4 linked regions of the Homo sapiens genome follow. The protein of the gene in region 3 interacts with the protein of the main gene of each other region in a pairwise test. Each region holds a gene or a part of one and is shown on either strand. Other genes may lie near its edges. The genes, in order: FHL2, KRTAP3-2, POGZ and DAB1.

The links.
Region 1: the proteins of POGZ (region 3) and FHL2 interact in binary tests that used the Homo sapiens proteins (3 or more experiments, as listed by UniProt).
Region 2: the proteins of POGZ (region 3) and KRTAP3-2 interact in binary tests that used the Homo sapiens proteins (3 or more experiments, as listed by UniProt).
Region 4: the proteins of POGZ (region 3) and DAB1 interact in binary tests that used the Homo sapiens proteins (3 or more experiments, as listed by UniProt).

Annotation. Positions count from the first base shown.
Region 1 is NC_000002.12:105,368,052-105,375,104, forward strand, and holds part of FHL2 (four and a half LIM domains protein 2), read right to left. Parts: intron 5,683-7,053; coding exon 5,508-5,682; intron 1-5,507. UniProt on the Homo sapiens protein: May function as a molecular transmitter linking various signaling pathways to transcriptional regulation. Negatively regulates the transcriptional repressor E4F1 and may function in cell growth.
Region 2 is NC_000017.11:40,998,654-41,003,730, reverse strand, and holds KRTAP3-2 (keratin-associated protein 3-2), read left to right. Parts: upstream 1-3,824; 5' UTR 3,825-3,877; coding exon 3,878-4,174; 3' UTR 4,175-4,538; downstream 4,539-5,077.
Region 3 is NC_000001.11:151,402,224-151,407,547, forward strand, and holds the end of POGZ (pogo transposable element with ZNF domain), read right to left. Parts: intron 5,069-5,324; coding exon 5,012-5,068; intron 4,801-5,011; coding exon 4,688-4,800; intron 4,409-4,687; coding exon 4,384-4,408; intron 4,242-4,383; coding exon 2,579-4,241; 3' UTR 501-2,578; downstream 1-500. UniProt on the Homo sapiens protein: Plays a role in mitotic cell cycle progression and is involved in kinetochore assembly and mitotic sister chromatid cohesion.
Region 4 is NC_000001.11:57,414,061-57,421,060, reverse strand, and holds part of DAB1 (disabled homolog 1), read left to right. Parts: intron 1-7,000. UniProt on the Homo sapiens protein: Signaling adapter of the reelin-mediated signaling pathway, which regulates the migration and differentiation of postmitotic neurons during brain development.

The sequences.
Region 1 (7,053 bases), on a different chromosome or scaffold from region 3:
AGTATAAAGAGAAGTGTGGCATAGCTCCGATGAATTCCCATGGAGCATGACTTTTGGAGTCTAGGGACTGTATTCACCTATTGCACACCTGATAATGAACACCCCGTCTGGTTCACAGCAGGATGGAAATGGCTAGAGTGTGAATGAACCTGGAACCTCGAACCTGATTCAGTGAGCAGCCTCTACAACACTCACTTTACATACTGCCTGTTGAACCAAGTTGTGATGTATCTAGGTAGTTTTATGCACTGTACTAAGTGCTATAATTAAAACCTACATGTAGTTTTTTTTTGTTTTCGAGACAGGGTCTCACTCTGTCACCCAGGCTGGAGTGCAGTGGTGCGATCCTGGCTCACTGCAGCCTTGAACATCTGGGCTCCAGGGAAACTCCTGCCTCAACCTGAGTAGCTGGAACTACAGGTGCACACCACCATGCCTGGCTGAAATCTTCATGTGTTACTTGTACATCCCATTTAGTAATTGCCTAAACCTACGCCATCCATTGTCTTTTGAATAACTATTAGCATTTGATACATTTCTACCATTTCTCCAAGTGAACTGAGGAGCTCTAGAGAACTGAAACACTTATGGGTCACCCCTGCCACCACCAAGCTGGACTCACTGCAAGTGCTCGGTGTCTGTTGACTGACATTTTTTCATTTTTGTTTGCCAGAAAGAAGTGTATCTATTTATAGTAACGGATGATTCCAGATAGGCGTATAAACAAGTACCCTTCATATAAAGCAAAGGTAAAGAACAATCTGGGGAAATAAGTATCAGGGACAAAGAAAGAGGAAAGTGTTGTAAGTGCCCGGACTAGCTGAGGGGCCTGGCCACTGTGTAAGACCAAATCCAGACTGCTGCCTGCTTTTCAAATGAAGTTTTATTGGAACACAGCCACGCCCATTAATTTACTTCCATTGTTTACATCCGCTTTTAAGCTAGACGGCCGAGTAGTGTGCAGCTGTGTGCAGTTGTGCAGTTGTTGTGTAGTTGTAATAGTTGAGTAGTTGTGACAGAGACTGTATGGTCCACAAAGCCCCAAATATTTATCTGATTTTTGAAGGAAAAATGTTGCCAATCCCTGGGGACTGTGGCATGAGGGTCACATACATGTGACTTCAACTGGGGGTCAGGGAATGATGGGGAATCAAGCCGACAGAGGGACTGCCCCGCTCCAGACCAGGTGGAAGCAGCTGCAGTAACACAGGTGGCTTATAGGAGTCTATAGACTAGTCCATAGCTCTCAGCCCCAAAATCTTATGGTCCCAAGGACAAAGCTAGGGGTTGTATTTTAGCTGGCTAGAAAGTTGGTCATGAAATGTCTGTCCTCCAGTAATTAGGAATGTGCTGAGAATTATCACGATTGTTATTTAGGATCATTTTCTCAGCTTCCTGTACTTCCAAGACCAGACATTTGAGATTATATAAAATAAGCAGGGTGTGTGTTGGGGGGCAATGTGTGAGAGGGAATTTGGGATGGTGACACGCAGCGATCTTTTAATTCAAAACTAAGCTGTACAATCTATGGAATTCAATTGTGGGGTGATGAATCCTAAAACAAACATTACATGAAGCAATTGAAATTCAAGTAAAAATAGTGGAAGGACTTTGAATTCACAAAGATTTTCTTCAACCTCCATGCATACTTTTGTCACTTGCTCTTTGGATCTCTGACATTCATTCTGATCAAGCAGCCCAGAAGCCAAAGGATTTTGCCAATGAATATGGGGCAATTATGACTCTCATGGCATTCTTGTCGAGTTCTGAAATAAGTCTGATCAGATCAACACCAGTTCGAGGGCAACTCTACGTGCAGGGAATGCACAGGGCACCTGGAGCCTCAGGGACATGGCGCGTGCACCTCAGGCATGGCGACAGCAGTGGCCGCAAGCCTGCATGGTCATATGCAGCAATACCGGCAGGTGGCAGGAGCGTTCCTTCTCCTAACTGAATCGCACACTCTGAACCAAGTCTCCCGCAGGCGGAAGCGCAGTCTTGAAGAAGGGATGTCTTAATCTGATTCAAATAGTCAAATGAGGCTGGCTGCGGTGCCTCAGCCTTGTAATCCCAGCACTTTGGGAGGCTAAGGCGGGAGATCTCTTGAGCCCAGGAGTTGGCGACCAGCCTGGGCAACATAGAGAGTCCCTGTCTCTACCCCCCCAAAAAAAAAATTAGGCGGGTGTGGTGGTGTGTGCCTGAGGTCCTAGACACGTAGGAGGCTGAGGTGGGAGGATCATTTGAGCCCGAGAGGTCAAGGCTGCAGTGAGCAGTGATCGTACCACTACTCTCCCGCCTGAGCGAAAGAGCGAGATCCTGGCTCAAAAAAAAAAAAAGTCAAATGAGGAGCCAGAAATTTGGTTGCAGGGTTGGAGACAGAATCGCTACTTGAGTCTGCTCAGAGGCTGTGGTGCATCTGTAAGCAACGTCTGCTAATAGGGGCGCGAGAGCCGGTAAACCCCAGCACTGGGGTTACTGATGGTATTCCAGTTTCCTGATTGGTCATCAGGAAACTGACTTGTGTGGGGGGTGTGGAGCTGGTGGGTGAGTTTTTCACTTGTCCTCTAAATGTAAATTCACCGCAAAAGCTGTGCACTGACGCTGTAAACCCATATTCATCTTGAATGGGTTCTAACACTTTTAAAAATCAAACCCAGGCAAGCAAGTGCTTTGATTCAGTGTTTTGTCGGTGCTGGTTTGTTTTGCATACACCGGGATTCTTCTAGACGCCCTGCCTTTGGTGCCCAGTCCGTTTCTTCTGGCAGAGGCACCTGTAAAATGGGGATGAAGCCATCCAACCCAGGGAACACCGAAGATTCAATGGGATTCTGTAAAGCAGCAGGGTCTGACGCCTGTGTGTGTGCTCAGGGGCTGGAAGCTGTAGCTGTGTTGTTATTATTACTACACAGCATTTCTTACCACAGAGCCTGAATTCTTGCTTCCCCCATTCCTTAGTAGAAGAGGCTGCCGGCCAGTTAATTCTCAGATATTCAGTATGGGTTACCTCTCACTGAACATTAGGTTTTTACTTCTTATCTGATCATGTTTTTCTTTTCTTTCCCTCCCCAGTAAACACCATGAGAAAGGGAAGGTGTGATGGTTAATTTTATGTGTCAGCGTGGCTGGGCTCTGGTACCCAGTTGTTTGGTCAAAAAACAGGTTTACTTGTTGCCGTGAAGGTGTTTTTTAGATGTGACTAACATCTAAGTCAGCAAGCTTCGAGTGCAGCACGTTACCCACGTATCAGGGCCGGGCTTCATCTAATCGGTAGTGGGCCTTAGGGGCAAAGACTAAGGTTTCCCTAAGGGCAACTAATTCTTCTCAAGACTGCAATAGACACACCCTGCCTGAGTTTCCAGCCTGCCGCCCTACGGAATTCAAATGCTCCCATTTGGAACTGCAGTATCATCTCTTCCCTGAGCCTCCAGCCTGCTGCCCTGTTCTATAGATTCCAGACTTACCGCCTCCACAATCTCATGAGCCAATCCCTTGAAATCTCTCTCTCTCTCTCTCTCTCTCTCTCTCCTTATGTATGTATCTATGTGTATACATTTCCTTGATTGATTCTGTTTCTCTGGAGAACGTGACTAACACAGAAAGTCAAGACAGGTGAAAAATTCAAAATCCGGGAAATATGCATACTTTTTATGTCATGGTTGGTGCTAACAGTTAAAGTCTTTAAACAGCCCCTAGAGTCCCCAGTGGAAGCTTCCTTGGGCCCTTGTTCAGGAAACTAGTAAGGGTTTAATTTGTTTTTCAATTAATGTCGTGGTTCTTATTGTTACTGAGTGTTGTGTCTCTGCAGTGACTCCCTGTGGGGCAGGACACAGGTCAGCCTGGCTTTCTACGGGCTTCAATTCTCATTTGCACTGTCGCACAGCACTGGGGCCCGAGTTTCCAGCCTCTGCAGGATCCACATGATCTTAGAAGAGGCCTTCTTGCCTGGAGCTGCCCCATCTAAAGTCACCATGCAGCCCTTCCAGCTGTTTTCCCTTACAGCTGCCAACAGGGCTGGGACTGTGTCAGCCTGGGCATTTTTCTTCCCTGTCATAGTGTGTCACAGTTGTTTTAAAGTTATATTAACCAGAGAAATGTAGTGGCAGTAAGAAACCATCTTACCAAAGGTCAGATTACCTCCTTGCCTTTTTAAAAAATGATTATTCCTTATCCTACATAACTTTCTTTTTTTTTTGAGACGGAGTCTCACTCTGTCACCCAGGCTGGAGTGCAGTGGCGTGATCTCAGCTCACTGCAAGCTCCATCTCCTGGGTTCAGGCCATTCTCCTGCCTCAGCCTCCCGAGTAGCTGGGACTACAGACGCCCGCCACTATGCCCGGCTAATTTTTTGTATTTTTAGTAGAGACAGCGTTTTACCATGTTAGCCTGGCTGGTCTCAAACTCCTGACCTCGTGATCCGCCCTCCTTAGCCTTGCAAAGTGCTGGGATTACAGGGGTGAGCCACCACACCTGGCATCCTACATATATTTCTAAACTATTTCCCATATGTCAGTCTCTTCAGTATTTCTTTATTATCAAAAACAAAGCAAACCAACATGATGAAACCCCATCTCTACTAAAAATACAAAAATTAGCCAGGTGTGGTGGTGCACGCCTGTAGTCTCAGCTACTTAGGAGGCTAAGGCAGAAGAATCTCTTGAACCTGGGAGGCAGAGGTTGCAGTGAGTCAAGATTGCACCACTGAACCACATTGGCCAGGCCGATTTCAAACTCCTGACCTCAAGTGATCCACCCACCTCAGCCTCCCAAAGTACTGGAATTACAGGTATAAGCCACCGCACCCAGCTTCTTTCTGTATTTTGAAATTCCACATATTTTTGTCCACTTTGCTTTTTAAAATAAAAGATTCTGCTCTCCTACATAAAAAACAAAACAAAACAAATAACTCCCCCCACATACACACACAAAAAAACCATGAGGGACACAGTCCCATCAACACACAAGGCACCTTTATTGCCATCCTCGGCACCTGGCCCAGTTGCGGCTGTGCCCTTTTTGACTGTCCGTCTAGAACACCAACTCTACAAGGGCAGAGGACCAGGTGCACCTCGGCTCACACCCTACGAATGCTCAGCTCGAGCCCAGTGCCTGGCACGCAAGGGCACCATGCACACTTGGTGAAATAACTGAATGAGTACAAATTCAGCAGGTAGAAGGGAAGAAAAGAGAAACTATCTATGGTGGTGGGAGAGTGGGGGCTGATGCAGGAGATGTATTTTTAAGGGGGATACCCACCATTTTCTTACTCTAACAATTTGACTGCATAACACTGCCCCACGTGCACAGCAAAAAGATCCCGTTACTGCCCATGATAGAACCTGTATGTCCCTGCTTCGTAAGTACTCTAAATACTCCTCTGCAGTTCAAGGTCAAACTGGAAAGTCAACACGAGTGTCTGGAACCAAGTCAATGTGAACAGGGGGTCAGAGGAACGTGCACAAGGCTTGAAGCTAGACTGGCTCACGCATGAGAAAGGAGTGCCTCCTGACCTGGCATGATGGTCTTCTTGCATTCCTGGCACTTGGATGAGTACTCGTTGGAATAGCAGTCTGTACAGAGCAGCTGGTCCTCCTTGGCAGCAAAGGGCTTGTCCACCAGTGAGTTTCTGCACTGCGAGCAGTGGAAACAGGCTTCATGCCAGTGCCGGTCCTTGTAAGACAAGTCCTGTGGGGCCAGACCACACAAGACAGTCAGAGGCAGGACAGGAGGGCTTGGACCCACAGCATAGGGGCCCCTTGCGAATCTGCAGGGCAAACAAGGAAAGAAGTTGGGCCGAGGCACCCTGGCGCACCCACATTCATGCCCCAGGACCACCTAACTGCTGAAATCAATTAAGACTAGGCTGCTTTTCTCTTGCTGCATTTTAGAGCAACAGGTTAGACAGATGTGCATGTATGCACATGTCTGTGTGTGAGAGATGCTTCTAAAAAACAAAGGGATTTCCCTTATGTATTGCCTGCAAGAAAGAGAAACAGAAAACATGAACACCTATCAATTCGTCTCACACCACATCCGGTGACAGAGAAACAGACTGCAGGACATCCTTGGCTGAGGGAGCCCTGCCCAACTCAGATCACTGTGGTCACCGGCATGGCAGAGAGGCTCTGGGTGTCGGGATGTTCACAGGAGGCCCAAGGACTGTTTGGTGGGAGACGGTCAGGAGAGACTGTGTGTGTGGGTGCTACCTCTGTGGGTGGCCGTGAGCTGGGGGAGGAAGGGAATTTCAGGCAGAGAAAGAGCACAGACACAGAAGATCTGGGGACGGGGGGCATGTCAGATTGGAGGGACCACAGGCCAGGGGCGAGGTGGGAGGGCCCCCCGGCCTGGCTGGACTGGAAGATATGGCTGCCTTTTTGCCTTTTATGTCTGTGTAGAGATTCCATTGATCCTGAAGGCAGTGGACAGCTGCTTTTCAACAGGAGAGTGAAGTGCTCAGACTGGGGGACGGGTAAGGATGTGGGAGTGGAGGGGCGTGAGGGTGGGAGAAGTGAGACAAAAACTGAGCACACATGAGAGAGGCCCTGAGAAGACAGACGTGTGCTTTTGAGTAAAAGATGAGGGAGAGAAAGGAGCCCCGCAGAAAACTCGACTCCACACTTGGCTTCATCTTGCCTGAGGAATAAGAGAACCCTCCATATTTGCCTTTTAAAAATGACATACGGCATTTTTAAAGTGCCAACACAAAATTAAAATAACAATCTCTTTATGCCCAGCTTTATCTTAGAAAGGATATGTTTCTATTGCTGTCTTTGTGTTCCCAGCTCTGACCCCAAATCATCATCCATTTATACATGAGGCAGAAACAGAGTATTAGGCTCTGCACGGTTTCCTGGGCAGGCTTCCAGTTGGTAGGTATCCTGAACAGGGCACAGGAGGGCTGTTCACGCGATGGCCCTGAAGAAGAGCCTGCCCACGATGTCTCTGTTACTGAAACCGAAGTCGAAGCTGGAGTTATGCTGAATGTAGGATGTGAAGACATGGATCTTGGCCTTGATTAGAAAGTCCTAAAACACCAGCTAACTCGGAACCAAAACT
Region 2 (5,077 bases), on a different chromosome or scaffold from region 3:
AGCCCGTCTCTACTAAAAATACAAAATTAGCCGGGCATGGTAGAGCATGAATGTAATCCCATCTATTCCTCAGGCTGAGGCAGGAGAATGGCTTGAACCCGGGAGGCAGAGGTTACTGTGAGCCAAGATCGTGCCATTGCACTCCAGCCTGGGCAACAAGAGCAAAACTCCATCTCAAAAAAAAAAAAAAGTTTTGACAACTGTAAAGCAATTCACACAAAAAATGAATCACTCTCTTTATATAAAGTGTTACTGTTATAAAAGGCCATTATAAAAATAAATAAATACCTTTTTAATTCTAATCTGAAATGTAATCCAATTCAACAAATATTTATCAAATGCCTACCCTGTTTCAGGCATTGTCCTAGGTGCTTGAAAAAGACAAATAAAACTAACATACGATTACCACTTCCAAGAACCTTGCATTGGAGTGAGGAAAACAAATTTAAGTGACAAACTACAAAATATAGCAGAAAGAAATGAGGTTGAAAGGGAAGAATAGGCAGCCCATTTTGTGAGAGCAGAGAAAAGGATGCAAACATCTAGAAGAATCACCTAGAGTTTCTTTATGAAGGGGATGTTTGGCTGAATCTTGAGGGATCAACAGGATTTGGAAACTAGAGAATTGGGAAAGGTCACTTTAAGCTAAAGAAACAGTATGAACGAGGTCACAGAGGGTAAAGTACCTAGGAGACTCCCGCCTTCACTTTATGTAATGTGCTGTATGATTAACATATGCGTGACTCACATAGTTATCATTTTTGTGATGAGAACACTTAATCCATTCTCTCAGCGTTTTTCAAAAATGCAATATATGGTTATTCACTATAGTCACCATGTTGTACAGTAGATCTCCTGAATCTATATAATATTTCAAAATCGATTTTAAAAGAGAAGTCAGAGAGAACACAGAGAATGGGAGAGGGTCTTCTTCATATATTCTACTTGCCAAGCCACTGGCTTCTAGATGAGAGAGACTGGTAAGTCAAGAGTAAGTAAACATTAAACATTTCCTTGACGATTTCAATACTAGTTCATTAACTTTGAATTTTATAATATACTGGGAAAGCCACTTGAATTTGCTTATCTGTTCTTCAGTGGTAAAGTGCAGGTATTGAGGCAGGAGACTAGCAAAGGGAATTAAAACTTGGATAAAGGGTGGAGTGAATAAAAGCAGAGACCAGAAGCAAGGTGAAGGGGCAGGTAAGCAAGAAGCAAGATAAGAAGCAGAAGTTAGACCAGGCGCGGTGGCTCATGCTGTAATCCTGGCATTTTGGGAGGCCGAAGCAGGTGGATCACTTGAGATCAGGAGTTCAAGACCAGCCTGGCCAACATGGAGAAACACCCCTCTCTACAAAAAATACAAAACTTAGCTGGGTGTGGTGGCGGGCACCTGTAATCCCAGCTGCTACTTGGGAGTCTGAGGTAGGAGAATCACTTGATCCCAGAAAGTAGAGGCTGCAGTGAGCAGAGAATGCCACTGCACTCCAGCCAAAACAAAAAGTAAGATAGAGAAGAAAGCAAGGCCCCCATGGCCGGCAAGATAAGGACCAAACCAGTAAGGGGCAACTCTTCATGGATAAGCATGTGCATTAAAGAGAAAACGTATCCTTAACATGACCTTGTATGAAAATCAGCTCATTCAGGCTTATGCATATGGACTGCATATCATGTATGTACTTAAAATTATGGGCTGGAGGTGGTGCGCAAGCACACAGGGGCCAAAGTAACTAAGCAACACACCTGTCAATCAAAGAGGCAAACACTGGCTAGAGATTAGGCAGCCTTGGGAAGGGACACACACACACACATACACACACACACACACACACAAAGACGCAAACTGCACCAAGCTGGGGGCTGATCTCATCTCACAGAGGCTGGTTTGCTCTCCCCCTCTTAGAGTGTAATACTGTGCTTAATACACTTTTGTTTCTTTGTTTTGCTGTGGGTGTCTCGTCCAATTCTTTGGGACACCAAAAGCCTGGAACTGCATGGCACCATCTGGTAACAGTATGATGTTCGACACCCTTGGCATTTGTTGTAAATTCCTGCTAATAAAAATGATTTGAAGCTGTTTTCTGTTTTTTTGTTTTTAACTTTTAAGTTCAGGGGTACCTGTGCAGGTTTGTTACATAGGTAAGCTGGTGTCATGGGGGTTTGTTGTACAGATTATCTCATCACCCACGTATTAAGCCTAGTACCTACCAGTTATTTTTCCTGATCCTGTCCCTCCTCCCACCTTCCACCCTCTGATAGGTTCTAGCATCTGTTATTCCCCTCTATGTGTCCATGCGTTCTCATCATTTAGCTACCACTTATAAGTGAGAACATGCAGTATTCGGTTTTCTGTTTCTGCATTAGTTACTAAAGATAATAGCCTCCAGCTCCATCCATGTTTCTTCAAAGGATAGGAGCTCCTTATTTTTTATGGCTGCATAGTATTCTATGGCATATATGTACCACATATTTTTGTTGTTAAAGAAAAAGATAAACTGGTTGTTTTAACGTATAACGTATAAGGCTTACCTACCAATGACATTTGATATTTTCCACTGATTTTAGCCAGCTTTCTTCTCTTTTAAGTAGATCGTACTGGTTTTTGGTAATGTCCCCTCAGAAACAACCTACCCGGAATCTTTGCTTTCTGTTAAGTCAACAAATTGCCACATAACGAGTATGTAATTTAAATTATACAATATTATCTGAAAGGATTTGTGCTGATCATGGACAGGTGTAGGAAGATGTTGGAATCTAGAATATTACACATTTGATATTATCTAGTTCAATCTCTGGCTGACTTAAGTAAATAATGTTGTTTAAGGCATACCTCAAAGGAATTTCAATCTAGTTCAAGATCCAAGGTATGAAAACAAATAAACATGCAAAGTAGGGAGTAAGTCAGTGAAAAAGTGATTTTTATGAATGCCATAGTTCTAAATTGCATTGAGTCAGATTCCCTGCCAAAATCCATGATTGTTCTGTGACTCTTGTGGTTTCTCCTTTTAATTCTTATTTCATCTTATTTTAAAGTATGTACACCATTCATGTGAAAATGAATCAAGGCTGAGGTGGTTTTCTTTTAGTGGTATATTCAACAAAGAATGGCCACTGTGTGGATCCTTCCTTCCAATGAATTTATACTTTGATTCACCACAAGATTGGCATAACTTTGAGAATAGAGACTATTTTAGAAAAAAAAAATCCATAGAATAATACAACATTGAGAAATTCACTACAGATTTAATAAAAATAATAAAAAGGAGTTTCTTCATCCTGTACCATTCTACCACTTTGCTTGCTCAATAGAACCTGAATTATAATATCACTAAATAATGCAAACATGTCCGAGATGCCTGTAGTCACATGAAACATTCATCTGTAAATAGCCATATTCTTGTTGACTTTATTGAGTTGAAAATGGTCCAGTTCATCATTTGAGTTACTCATTCTGAAATTAGTCATTAGAAATCACATTATCCATAGTATTTTAAATTAAGAGGGAAAAACAAGAAGAGTTTGGCCTCCAAAATTACAGCTGAATTGTCACTTGGATTGATTACCCATAAAAGTCATATAAGGTTTGGCATGCCAGAAACCTGTGAAGACAAAATGTGATGATCTTGTGACAAAAATGACAAGTCAATGAGTCAAAAATATGATTAACTTAATAAGAGCGGGAACTCTTAATGGACATGTAAATGACAAACTGATTAGAGAATCTCAGTGAAAAAGGGTGCCATAAACAAAACAGGAAGGCTTCCAGTTGGACCAATGCCCACTTGGGAGGGTATATAAGAGCCCTAACAAAAGAGGAGACATTTGTACCTCAGAATCCTCATCTAAGAAACTGAAAGCTAACCAGACGCCCATTGCCATGGATTGCTGTGCCTCTCGCAGCTGCAGTGTCCCCACTGGGCCTGCCACCACCATCTGCTCCTCCGACAAATCCTGCCGCTGTGGAGTCTGCCTGCCCAGCACCTGCCCACACACAGTTTGGTTACTGGAGCCCATCTGCTGTGACAACTGTCCCCCACCCTGCCACATTCCTCAGCCCTGCGTGCCCACCTGCTTCCTGCTCAACTCCTGCCAGCCAACTCCGGGCCTGGAGACCCTCAACCTCACCACCTTCACTCAGCCCTGCTGTGAGCCCTGCCTCCCAAGAGGCTGCTGATGGATGGCTACTTTGCTCAGTGCCCGACAACGAAGAATCCAGAAGCTGTCCCTTCAGTATTCACTTGCCTCAGTAGTTTGCCAGATGTTAAGGTAGACCAGATGACCCAGATATGAAGAACTTACCTTTGGTTTTAATGGGGGAAAAAAAGAAAAGTATTTTTTATGGTTATTTAGCTGAAAAACCATTTGGTTCCTGTGGGCAGGTGAATGAGTTTTATTAGCAAAATACTGTTTCAATCTTTAAGACCTCAGATTACATGTTCTTGATCATATTGCTTCCTGGCTCTTGTTTCTTGTACTGGGTATTTTCATAGAAGAAAATTTCTTGGTGGGTTTTCCAATAAACTATATTTCTCTGGCAAGATGTGTCATTTGTTTATGTTAGTTTTGGGTATATTTCTTCCATTTTAAAAAGGTAAAAACAGGATGATTATTTTAATCTTTTAAAGAAGACTCTATTGGCAGAATGACTAACATTCTTGCTACTACTAACATGGCTTGCTAACTTTTAACAGGTTCTCTTTCATGTTTGCCTTCTCTTCTCTCTTCTTCCTCAGACAAGTGCAATTTTGGTGTGAACCAACATTTATTTATCTACTCTTCACCAGTAAATTATTGATTTAGTCCTTAAAACAGCACTAATGGATAAGAAAAAATGAAGTTTTAAGCGTTATTCAACATTCTGAAAGTCATAAAGTTAATTACTTAGAAAATCAGAATTCAGCCTCTTGTATGTCTGACTCTAAAGCCCAATTTTTCCTACCACATCATAGAACCTTCAATACTAATGAAACCAGAAGCTTAATGAGCACAGTTATGAAATAAACCCAAAATATGCAAGAGAAATAAAACATGTAAGATTCTTTAACAAAATCCACATCGGATTATAATAGAAAAAGAG
Region 3 (5,324 bases):
AATGTTGGCTGTGATTTTCATTAAAATACCACTTTAAAAATAATCTAGTAGAACTATTCTGCATCAGGTTGCCCTCAAGTCAGCTGGGGCATCAGCCATCCCTGGAATGGTTCTAAACCTGAATATTTTAGAGACAAAAGTCTCATTCTGTTGCCCAGGCTGGCGTGCAGTGGCATGATCATAGCCTACTACAGCCTTGAATTTCTGAGCTCAAGCAACCTCCTGCCTCAGCCTCCCAAGTGCTGGGATTACTGGCATGAGCCATCATGCCCAGCTTGAATTTTTAAAATGAACACTGTAGGCGATTCTGACACAAATCCTCTCCAAACTTCTTGAGAAAGAAAATATAGGCAGCAAATTCAAAGTACAGAAATTCAGTGAGAACTGAAGGAAAAAATAAAACCATCCCTCCATTTGCATTGTCCGTTAACAACAAACTTGTAAAGCCAAACAATGAGCTTTCAATCTGAAACCTCCACACATTCAGTCTCAACACAGGAAACAGTCAATAAATACATGTTTATTGATTAAACTGAATTATAAAAAACAAAACCAAAAAAAAATTTCCTTCTACTACTAAGCCATGCAGGCAGAGTCCACAAAGACAACTTCCTGGCCAAAACCCAGCTGATCCACTGTTGGTATAATCTTAAAAAAAATTACCCATCAAGAAAGTCAATCGTGTGCAGAAGACAGGAACCCCAGCTCTGCTAAGGCTGTGGCTGCTGCAGAGACTACCAAAGAGTAGGATTAGGTTGTAGATAGACGTGACCAACCATAGTTCTTGAACTTTCTCAAAGGCAAAGGCTGACTTCAAAGTCCATTGTCTGTCAATAAAATGGCATCAGGCAAAAAGCTGGGGAAGAGAAGCCCAGATGGATCCTTGGTTGTTTTCAGATGTCAAAGGTTCACAAAGCTGGCCAAGCTGTTTCTGGAAGGGACTTTTCCAGTTCACTATATTATAGTGTGCTGGGGGATGAAAAAACAAACAAACAAAAAAGCAGGGTGGGGTGGGAGAAATGGGTGGTAACAAATGTCACACCTGTACCACCAGGCCCATCACATCTTGAGCATTCCCCAGTCTGTGAAAGCCTATTAAACAGGGTCACCTAGAAAAAAAACAAGTTTATAAATCCATTTCCCCTCATTTTATTAAATGTTCCACTTATGTACATTTTAAAGACGAACCATTTACAAGCTTGTGCAGTTTGCCTCCTTGGCTCACAGGAGGGGAACATTGTGGAAAGCCTCAGGATAAACAGAAGACTTGGTTTTTTGCTCCTTTTCTCTGTACGGTACAGTACGTTTTGGTTTACAACCATGAGTACATACAATTAAAAAAATCCCTCATGCAAATTGTAGAAAAAATTTTCTTTCCTTGAAGCTGGCAGTGAAAAATAAAGATTCATGTCATTTTCTTTGTGCACACCCCTGTGCGCTTCTTCCTGTCAGATTCTTCCCTAAGTATTAAGAGAAATAGGGGAAAGCCACAGAGCACGCTGGATTTCAACAAGTGGTCTTGTCTTTTTAAAGTTCAACACTTCTTGAACAATTAGCTCCTGGCTGTAGGACCAGTAATCCCTTAAACAGGCATGCTCTCCATCTAACAGGATGAAGTTCAGTAAAGCAGGGACTGCCCCTGGGGGCTTACAGGATGAAGACTCAAACTGGGAATGGCTTCCACCCTAAAACTGTTTGATCGCTTCAGTATCTCTTGCTTGCTAATAACACCTGTATGATCCTTTGTCCAGAGGGATGGATGGTGTTGAGAATGGGGAAAGGGGCCAAGGATCACAAGTGCAAAAAATATTGTTTATGTCATGTTTTGGAGGGAAGGTGGTGAGGAAAAGACAAATCTATTCATTCTGGATAATTAAAGGTGGTTTCATGCATTTTTAAAGCCACAATTTTATATCTAGGGTTGCTGTAGAAACCAACATCTCTGGAGAGGGAAGGAAAGAAAAGGAGAAGGAAGAGAGAGTTCAGTGGGACTTTTTTTCCATTTTCATTTTTATATAAAAGTGTTAAGACCACAATGAAAAAAGTTTTTTATCCATATATATAATAAACCAGTTTGTGAGCTACATAATTTGTCTTTCCCATCTTCAGAAATGTTCTCACATTAACAATGATTAGATAGCATCATGCCCAAAGACATTGGCCACACAATAAAACAAACAAAAAAACCCAGTACTATGATACAATTGAGGTAAAAGGGGAAACAAAAAAATTTAACATTTGCCCACAAATAATTTTTTTTCTTTTTCTTAATTTTGTCAGAAAAATACCAAACACAGTGATTTAAATTTAAAAAAAAAAAAAGTCACAAAAACCTGTTTTTAGCAGAAGTGAATGACCAATGGGCCAGCTCCTTGGCTCAGACGTGATTACTATTGGTTTTCCTAATTAATCCACAAATCCACAGGGAAGTGTAAGTCAACTTCAGGGGGGAGTGGTGGTATAAAATTAAAAAATAGAAACCAAATACCCCACCTGGTATGCCCCCTTTTCCCTAAGCCCCTTTACCCTCCCTCACATGTTCCCACCCTCACTCCACACCCCCTCATGACCCCAACACTCAAATCTCCATCAGATCTAGGTCAGCTTCTTCAAAGCCATAGAAAGACTCGGTCTCACTTTCACCCTCAAAGAGCTGGTGAAGACTTTCAGGCTCAATTGTCTCTTCAGGAGATGATCTGGGTCGTGGAGTGGAAGACTCAGAATGTTCCCCACTCAGCTTCAGTTGCTCCTCTAGGGAGGCAATTAGCTCCTCCTGCATGTCAGCATTTCTTGTAGGTGAGTTAATGTTGCCATCGGGGCCAGGCAGAACACTAGCCACCAGGAAGGAGCGCTGAACTAGCTCTGGACAGTCCCCAATGACACCTAGCACTTCACCCAGCCAGACAAGCACCAGCTGAAGCAGGACATCAGAATCACATGCAGTATCTGCCATTTCCCGAGCCTGTTCCTTCCATTTTTTATGCAGGAAGTTCTTGACAGTTCTTTTGATGCATACATCTAATGGCTGAATTTTGGAGCTACAGCCTGCTGGGACCACTGCAGGCAAAGTGCTAGAGGCACTAAGCATAGCCAGTACCTCTTCTGACAAGTGAGTGCGATGACAGTCCATCACAAGCATGCCTTTGCTGCGCTGGCAAGCTGTGTGCTTCTGCCACACTCGAGTTGACCACAGCTCCATGATCTCGTCATCACTGTAGCCACTCTCCTTTGCCTCTAGCAATATGGAGTCTGGCATGTTAGCAGGCTGATCCATCTGCCCTCTGTAGAAAACCAGGGTGGGAAGGACAGTGCCATCTGCCAGAATGGCTAGGACTACATCACACCAAGGTTCCCCTGTGCCCACTGTCTGCAGGGCATTCTCCTTTCGATCATCACTGCTCAGCACCTCTGTATCCAGGAACAAAGAGATCTCATCAATAGCCACAATCATAGACAAGGGTAAGTCCTGGTTGTGAATCTGCCGTTGTACAAAATCAATGAAGAGTCCTGCATTCTCTGCTACATCCTTAGGTAGGGTGTGGGCCACAGCTCGCCGGGCATGGGGAGTCAGGTGGTGCCGCAGCATGAAACGCACAGCCCACTCATAGGAGATCTTAAACCCCCCTTCCAAAGAACGTCCTATTTTGGTGGCCTTCTGGAACAAGGTCTCCTCATTTACAGGTAGCTGTTGTTCGCGCTGGGTTAGCACCCACTCAGCCAGTTTCTCTTCTGCCTCAAAGCTCAGATATTTGCCCTCTAGATTCTCCCCCTGGGAGGCCTGGAAACGTCGAAGCCAACGGCGAATACGTCGCTGGGGATTTCGGAAGTGTTCAGCTGCCTGTTCTGTATTGCAGCATAGAGCAAACAGTACTACTCGAAGCTTCTTCACAGACAGCTGCTCCTTTTTGCCAACTCCACCACTACCACCACCACCTGATGCTAGCTCAGGTTCTTGGGTGACTGGGCTCCCTTCATCCTGATCATCAACATTCAGACATTCGGCTCCCTCTGTAGCCAGCGGTGGAAGGGCTAAAGCCTGCGGGTGAGTGGGGGTTGGTGGTGGGGTTGCAGTTGAGGCTGGTGATGGGAGTGCTGGGGCTAAGGGAGTTAGTAGCTCTTCAGGCTCAGCTGGGGTGGCCCCCGCAGATTTCACAGTGGCAGCTTTGTTAGTGGGGAAGGAAGGAGGAGGGTACATATTCTTCACGTTCCGGTCATGCACTCGGTCACGAGTCTGGCCATGCCTAAAGGGGTGAGGAGCAAAGAGAAGAGGAGAAATCTCAGTTCAACTAGGAAATTGAAACAATAATATGATAATAATAATAATAATAACAGAGTAAACACACTGCAAACCAGAAATTAAATTGTGAGGTGAGTTTTTGTTACCTTGAGTGAGCTATCCAAGTGAGTCCTATGGAAAATGAAACAACAAAAATAGTTAGCTCAGTGAAAAAATAAGCCCTCCAAAGACAGTGCCCTGGGATTCAACTTACTACATACAAATACGCTGTTCGCAGTGACCAGCTTTCCCAGTTTTATATAAACTTCAGGTCGGAAGGTTTCTAATTAGGTCCAGCACATCTCAACAGTGAATGAGTGAGGCCAAGTAGGTATGCTCCTGATGCATACAGTACGAACCTGTATCTTTTTTCCTCCCCTTGCTCAACTAATCCCCTTCTCTCCTACTTACCCCGTGGCAGGATGCTGCTGGATCTGTGAGAGGGGTTGAATACCAAATGCTTGGCCATAGCATCGCCCACAGAGGTAACAAAGGTACATGAAGTGCAGGCCAGCTTGATTCCACTAAAAAAGAGAATTGAGACTATGTAAGACAAACACAGCAGTGACACTTGAGACCATTAAGCTTTGAGGCTTAAGAAAGAAAAGGAATGCCCTCCCACTTTCTCCTTTTTCTGAAATTAATTCACATAACCACCTCTCCAAATAATGAAAAACCTGAAAATTAATGTAAAAACCTGAAAAATTAAGATGCTGCCAATAAGTTTTTTCTTACCTCACAGAATTTTTAAACAAAGCCAAATACTTGGGGCTCTTCCGTGGAACATGATTGCTGAGAAAGACAAAGAAGTGGTATGAGTTACGGAGTTCTGCTGGCTAAGCTAGAGATCACCAGCCAGTGACAATGCCCCCAACAAAAGAGACACTTCTTCAGTGCACCCTAATCTCAACCTAAGCCAGTTTTCCTGTCACCATGCTTCTTAAACTTTAATATGCATACAAGTCACTGAGGATCTATTAAAATTCACATTCTGGTTCAGTAGGCCTAGGGCGGGGCTGAGAGTCAGCATTTCTAACAAGCTCCCACC
Region 4 (7,000 bases), about 94 Mb from region 3:
GCCACCCTGCAGGCAGATGAAGAATCTAATGGAGGCAGCATTTCATTTTGATAATTCACTCAAGTCAAACATTTTGTTTTTGCTGGGATTTAATCCTTCTCTCAAACTAATAAAGCAAACAAAGCAAGAAAATCACAGTTTATGTCTCTTAGATGGCACTTTAAAAATAGCATAAATTGAAGGGTATTGTCCGGAACTTTAAATGTTATTTAGGACTTACTGAGACAAAGAATACTCGTGGTTGAGTTAAGCAGTTGAGGATGAATCTCAACTTCCCAGAACCTTGCTTTCATCATCTGCAAAACGGACAATATTACCTACCTTGTGGGTCTTGGAGCAATTTTATGGAGAAAATCATATGATTGGGTGCTTTGGCACATAGCAGGATTTCAAGAGAATGATCTCTTAGTAATAGACAGCATGGAATTCTGTTCAAGAAAGTGGATGGCATTTGGAATTGGAAGACCAGGATTGAATCCAGCTACTTCTGACTTTGTGATGTTTGGCAAGTCACCTTTCATGTTAATAAAAAAGAATAATTAACCTTTATGGAGTACTACTAAGAGTCAGGAATGCTTCTAAGCACTTTACACATATTAACTTATTTAATCTTCAGATAACCCTAGGATGTGGATACTTGTATTCTCATTTGTATTAGCTAGATAAGGAAACTGGGGCACAGGAAGATTTGGTAACTGGCCTGAGATTACATAGCAAGTAAGGGATGGAACTAGGATTTAAACCTAGCCATTCTTGTTCCAGGGTCTGTCCTAACCACTGTTATGCTGCCTCTGAGTGAGGAAGTGATCCCAGCTAGCTCCCAGGGTGTAAAATTTAATGGAGAATAATGAAATAGTAAGACTTCTATAGGAGCAAGCTACATATTTCCCCATTTTTGGATGCTAGCAAACAAAATGGGTGTTACCTTATCATCAACAGGGAGTGGGGCAATGATAGGCACTTTGAACACTTGTGACTCTGTGGCAGTTTCTATCAGGCATTGGTTAGTATTGGTTCACATCTATTTACTCTGTGAAAATGTTTATTAATTAGGTAACAATTAGTAATCAATTAGTAAATAATTGTTTAGGCAATTAGTAACGCAGAAACAGCATTACTGCTTTTCTCAGTTACTAGCTGTGGTAAGCAGAGATTCTCAAACTAAAAGGTGGTATAGCAGGTGGTAAGGAGTCTGGACTTCGTTTCTGGACTGACTGCCTGGCTTCAGATCTCAGCTCTACCAGCTCTGTAAGCTGTGTGGCCTTGGCCAGCTAATCTAACTTCTCTGTGCTTTATAGTTTTCTTTATAATGAAATAACAGTACTTACCTCATAAAATTATGAAGATTACAGGAACTAACACAAAGTGCTTAGAATAATACCTAGCATGTAAAGTTACTTAGCTATTAGTGTTATCTTTCAAATGAGATAAAAACCCATCTCCTAGATAATGAAAAAGTTTTCCATCATTGATATTCTGAGAGTTATGTATCCCAATAGTATCTGGTCTATCTTTAGGAAGAGATACATTTTAGGATTTTAGGCAAAGGTTTTTTTTTTTTTTTTTTAATTGGAAATATTTCCTTACACATTTTGGCTCTTTGTGAAGAGGAGTTGTGGAAGTACACATCATGTTAAAATTTCCATGCCATTTTACTTTTCCGCAGTTATTCTGAGGAAAGTAAAATGACTTTGATTGAATTCTAGAGGTGTGTTTGTCAACTGTCCTAATTTACAGATTGAAAGAATATTAGGCTTGCAGAGATACGTAACTTTACAGCCCAGAGGCGCCATCGCAACTCAGGATTCTTGGACTCCTTGTCCAGTGCTCCTTTCACTAGACCAGATTGTCTCCTATACCAGGATAGAGACGTGGCTTGAAAATATAAATAAAACTTGGCAGAGGAGGTGTTGTCAGGCTAAGAGCATGAGCCAGCTAGACATTCTGTACTGAAAAAAGCATGTCAGTAGGAAAAGAAAACCCCTCCTCTGGTATGTACATTTATATCCATGAAAACTCACACTGAACTGAATCTGTGAAATGCATATCAGGATATAAATTCATGTAAAAAAATGAAAACAACTCATTAATCAAATTAATCACCTGGATATTTCCCTCTGATTGGAGAGCAAATGTTCAGATTTCTTTTTCTTTGACATGTTCTTTTTATTTTTCTTCCATTTAGTTTTGAGATGTGGGAAGGTTTTGGTTGAGGAATCATAAAACTCCTCTGGCATCTATTTTATGAAATATGTAGCATATTCTATTGGAAAGAAATTGCAAGCTTGCTTTTATTATTATTATTTTATTTTATTTGAAGCTGACATATAACCAATCTGCAATGCCAGTGGGGGAGTCTCATAAACAGAAAGGAAAATATAAATAAAATTCTGCTGAATAGAAGAGATGACAGCTAAAATGACGAAAATTTTGTGGTGGTGAAGGCGGGCTGTTTAACTTATGGTATAAAAATAAGGGGATGGGTCCTCCCAAATAGTTGTAAGTAGTTCAGCATGAACCCAAATCGGCCCTCTTGACCACCTGTAGTGAGTCTTGCAAATTACCAACCCCATGCATCTGCTCCGAGCTTCATATTGATTTACAATTTTCTTTGTTGGTCAGTCTCTGCATCTCTTGAATGGACTCATGATTTGTTTACTTGGTATCCATCAATTCAGGTATCTCTTTCTTTGCTCTTTCTCTGTCTCTGTCTTTCCTCGTTTCTATCTGCCTTTGTCACATTCAGTCTTTATGTCTCTTTGTTTTTATTCATGTTAGTGTTGCAACTGAAAATAATTGAAAAGCTGTGAATATGCATTGAGAGAATCTGGGAAATTGAGGAAGAACATTCTGGTCATGCACATAAACATCACTTCTATGTCCATTCAACAAATGTTTACTGAGCACCTACTTTGTGCTTGACTCTGGCTCTGTGCTAGGCATTGTGAAGAGTACCAAGATGCAATTGCACAGTTTGCCATCTAGGGACCTGGTTTCATGCATAAATAACTGTTACAGCAGGAGATGCGCTATGGAAAATATGTATACAGCTGTGGAACCTTCTGGAGGTGGTAATTTACTCTACCTGGAGAAAGGAAAGGCTGGGGGAAGGCTTCATTTCACCTAGGTCTTGAAGGCTGACCAGGAGTTTCTCAAGGCTTAAAGGCAGTTCTGACTGATAGGACTTCATGGACAAAGTCATGCAAGCATGAAGGATGGTTATTGACTTAGGGATGGGCATAATTGGGTACAGAGGTAATGTAGAACATGCATCAAAATGGGTTTTTTTAATAGAGCATTTTCCAAACTGTGTCCCAGGAAACACTAATGTCCCCTAAGATCATTATGAATATTTCAAAAGGAAGAAGGCTCAGAGGGAAAAATAAGTTCCATGTTCAAAAATGTTTGGAAGATATTGAATTATATATCCTGTTCTTAGTAAGATGTGGTATTTACTGATATGTTAAAGGTTCAGAGATTTTCTGCACTAAAGTCATTTAACTCATGAAGAATTTTAAAAATTCATTTGCCATAGAACCTTTGATTTCAAGTAGCATCTCTCAGTGTCTTATGAAATAGATTGGGAAAAATGTAGAGAATCACTTAAGCCTTTTAAGAGTAGTTTTCATTCTATCATGAAAATAATATGTGTGTGATTTGAAATGTAGGACAGAATATTTAACCCATTTATGCCTAGTGTTCCTTTATTGGAATGCTAAGCTTGTGGGCGTTATTTATATCCTACTGCTCAAGGTCATCACCAAAGTCTCATTTTTCACAAAAAACAATTTGCAACCTCTGGCATAAATGGGTTAAGACACACAAAAAGTATAAATAACAATATAATAAAAAGTTTTGTACCTACCACTCAGCTAATGAAATAAAGCCAGTTAAATACAGTTGAAACCTCCTGGTAACCTTTCTCTGATCATACGTCCCCTTCTCTTGGCAGACATAGTCACTATCCTAAATTTGATAATTCTTTTGAATATATTTTTCCAGAACAAACCTAAACAATTCCACTGAATTCTCTTCACTTTCTAGCTCATTACTGTATATATAATAAAAAGAAATGGTATTTTGTCCAATAATTTTCCTGAAATAAAGGACATTTATAAACTGTCTAGCTAGTCACTACATAGGTAATAAGAAAGAAATAGTATTTTGCCTAATAATTATACTGGAATAAAGGACATTTATGAACTACTTAGGGAAAGGAAATATAGCTGTCCCTTTTAACTCCGGTGTCTGGAATGTAGTAGATGCTCAATAAGTTTCTGCTTAATTGAATTGAATTAAATGTGTTCAGTCTGCTGTGGTTCATTAAGTTAATTTGGGTAAAAAGATTAGGGTAAATTGTTTTCCATAGACAATATTGAAATTCTTTGTGATCAGTGAACTTGAAAATCATTTTTTATTGTGATTCTTTATTTTGTAATCTAGATTTGGGAGTGAATTATAATAATTATCTGTTGAAAGTCATTTCTATGTTTTATTGACATCTCTTAAAATCATTAACAATAACTACTTATCCAAATCTGTCCTATTAAAACAGTCGATTCACTAGAGCTATCTACTTCCATTATAGGAAAAATTATAAATAAAACTGCTTTCATCCAAAGAGGAAATTTTAAAATTGTAATGCTATGTAATTACTCAGTACCCTGACATGAAATGCATTGAAAGTTTATGAGGTTCCATTCCTTGGGGTCCCCAAGAAATAACTTCCCATCAGTAACAGAGTGTTGTTATTAGATACTATCATGCCAACAGAAGCATCTCTTTTGATATATGCAAGGGACATCTTGAAAAAATTTACATCACCTTAAACATAAGTCATATGTGGGTGACATTTTCTTCTCTTATTGTCTCAGACTATATTCATATATTATGGTATATATGTCAACATGTAGAGTGAATGGCAGAATATTGGTGAAGAATGCATGGTAGAATGAATGAGAGGAGAAAGGAAATGGAAGACTCACAGGCTCACCGGAGGAAGCTTTTGGTACAAAATCATGGCTGTGTGGGAGACAGTAGATTACCTTCTCTCATGGGGTTAGAAGTTGATCTACCCTAGGGTTTTCTATCCTTGCTTTCACTGATATATATTTCTCCTGGTAGTTTTTGTAGTAGCAGTTAAATCCCAGCAGTTAGCAGAACAAGAATGAACTTTGTGGTGTGAATGATCATAAACATAGAAAAACGCTGCACAGAGGGTAAGGAAGAGATGCTGTACAATCCTAGTCCCTGGTGATGGTGTAGCAGTACCTATAATGATGGCATGTGGTGGTGCTTGTCTTGAATTGCAGGCCATGTTATTCTGAGCAGTATTATATGTCTACTCACGAAAGTTCTAGGTATAAGCCACATCCATTCAAATATACTCAGGTTAAACCAGTAGTGCTAGTAATCTAATTGTGGACAAAGTCAAAGATGGGCCAACCATATGCTGAATCTGAGCTATGGCATGTGTTGTCAGAATATAGTTCCAATAAATGCAAAAAGGTTATTTATGCCTTTGGGAAGCTGAATAGATTTATAGACCACATAGAAGTTGGATTTTTGCCAACCTTCTGCTATCTAACTTCTTAATTTTAACGTAGTTGAATTTATCAATCTTTTATGGTTAGCACTTTTTATGTCTTGTTTCAGAAAGCCTTTTTTTTCCCACTCTGATGTCATGAAGATATTCTCCTTTGTTGTCTTCTAAAAGCTTTATTGTTTTGTTTGCCTTTCAAATTTAGGTTCTCTAATCCATGTGGAGTGTGTGCATATATGTGTGTGTGTGTGTGTGTGTGTGTGTGTGTGTGTTGTGTGAGGTAGGCATTTATTCTAATTTTCTTTCATATGGAAAAATGATTTTCCTGGAACTTAGAGTCAATTTCTAAGCATATGTTTTAGCCACTCTTTTGCCCTAACCAAACTTTATTATAGCTTTTTAATGAATCTTGGTATTGGCCAGGACACATCCCTAAAAGTGTCCTTCTGCAAAAGTGTCTCAAGAGTGTCTTGGCTTTTCTTGGGCTGTTTTCTTCCGTATACATTTTATAATCATCTTTCAAGGTTTCACAAGAATACTGTTGAGATTTGATTTGAGTTTTATCAAACTTATAGACTGATTAAAAGATAATGCCATCATTAGGACATTGAGCCTGAGTCTTTCTATCTGTAAATGTAGTAACTCTTTCCATTTATTTAGTTCTTATTTAATGTCTTTCAATACAGTTTATAATTTTCTTCAAAGGGCATGCACTCTTTTTAGATTGAGTTTTAGGTGGTTTATATTTTTGTAATTGCCATTGTAAATGTTATCTTTAAAATTATATTTTCTAGCTATATATTAATTTTCATCATATGCTACCTGTATTTCTTATTCTAAATGGCAAATAGTCAGGAGAGGAGGAAAATCATGGGTGTTTTTGAATGCTTACTATTAAATAAATTCAGGCATCCATGGGAGATACGGCTGGTTCCATTCCAGGCCACTGCAATAAAGAGAATATTGCAATCAAGTGAGTCACACAAATTTGTTGGTTTTCCAGTGTATATAAAAGTTATGTTTACACTATACTGTAGTCTGTTAAGGGTGCAATAGCATTATGTAAAAAAATCAATGTACATACCTTAATTGAAAATACTTTATTGCTCACATATGCTAATGATCAGCTGAGCCTTCAGCAAGTCATAATCTTTTTGCTGGTGGAGGGTTTTACCTCAATGTTGGTGGCTACTGACTGATTAAGGTGGTGGTTACTGAAGATTGAAGTAGCTGGGTCAGTTTCTTAAAATAAGACAATAATGAAGTTTGTCACATTGATTGACTCTTCCTTTCATGAAAGATTTCTCTATAGAATGCAATGCTGTTTGACAGTATTTTACCCACAGCAGAACTTTTTTCAAAATTGGAGTCAGTCCTCTCAAACCCTGACACTGCTTTATCAATAAGTTTATGTAAATCCTTTGCTGTCATTTCAACAATCTTCACAGCATCTTCACT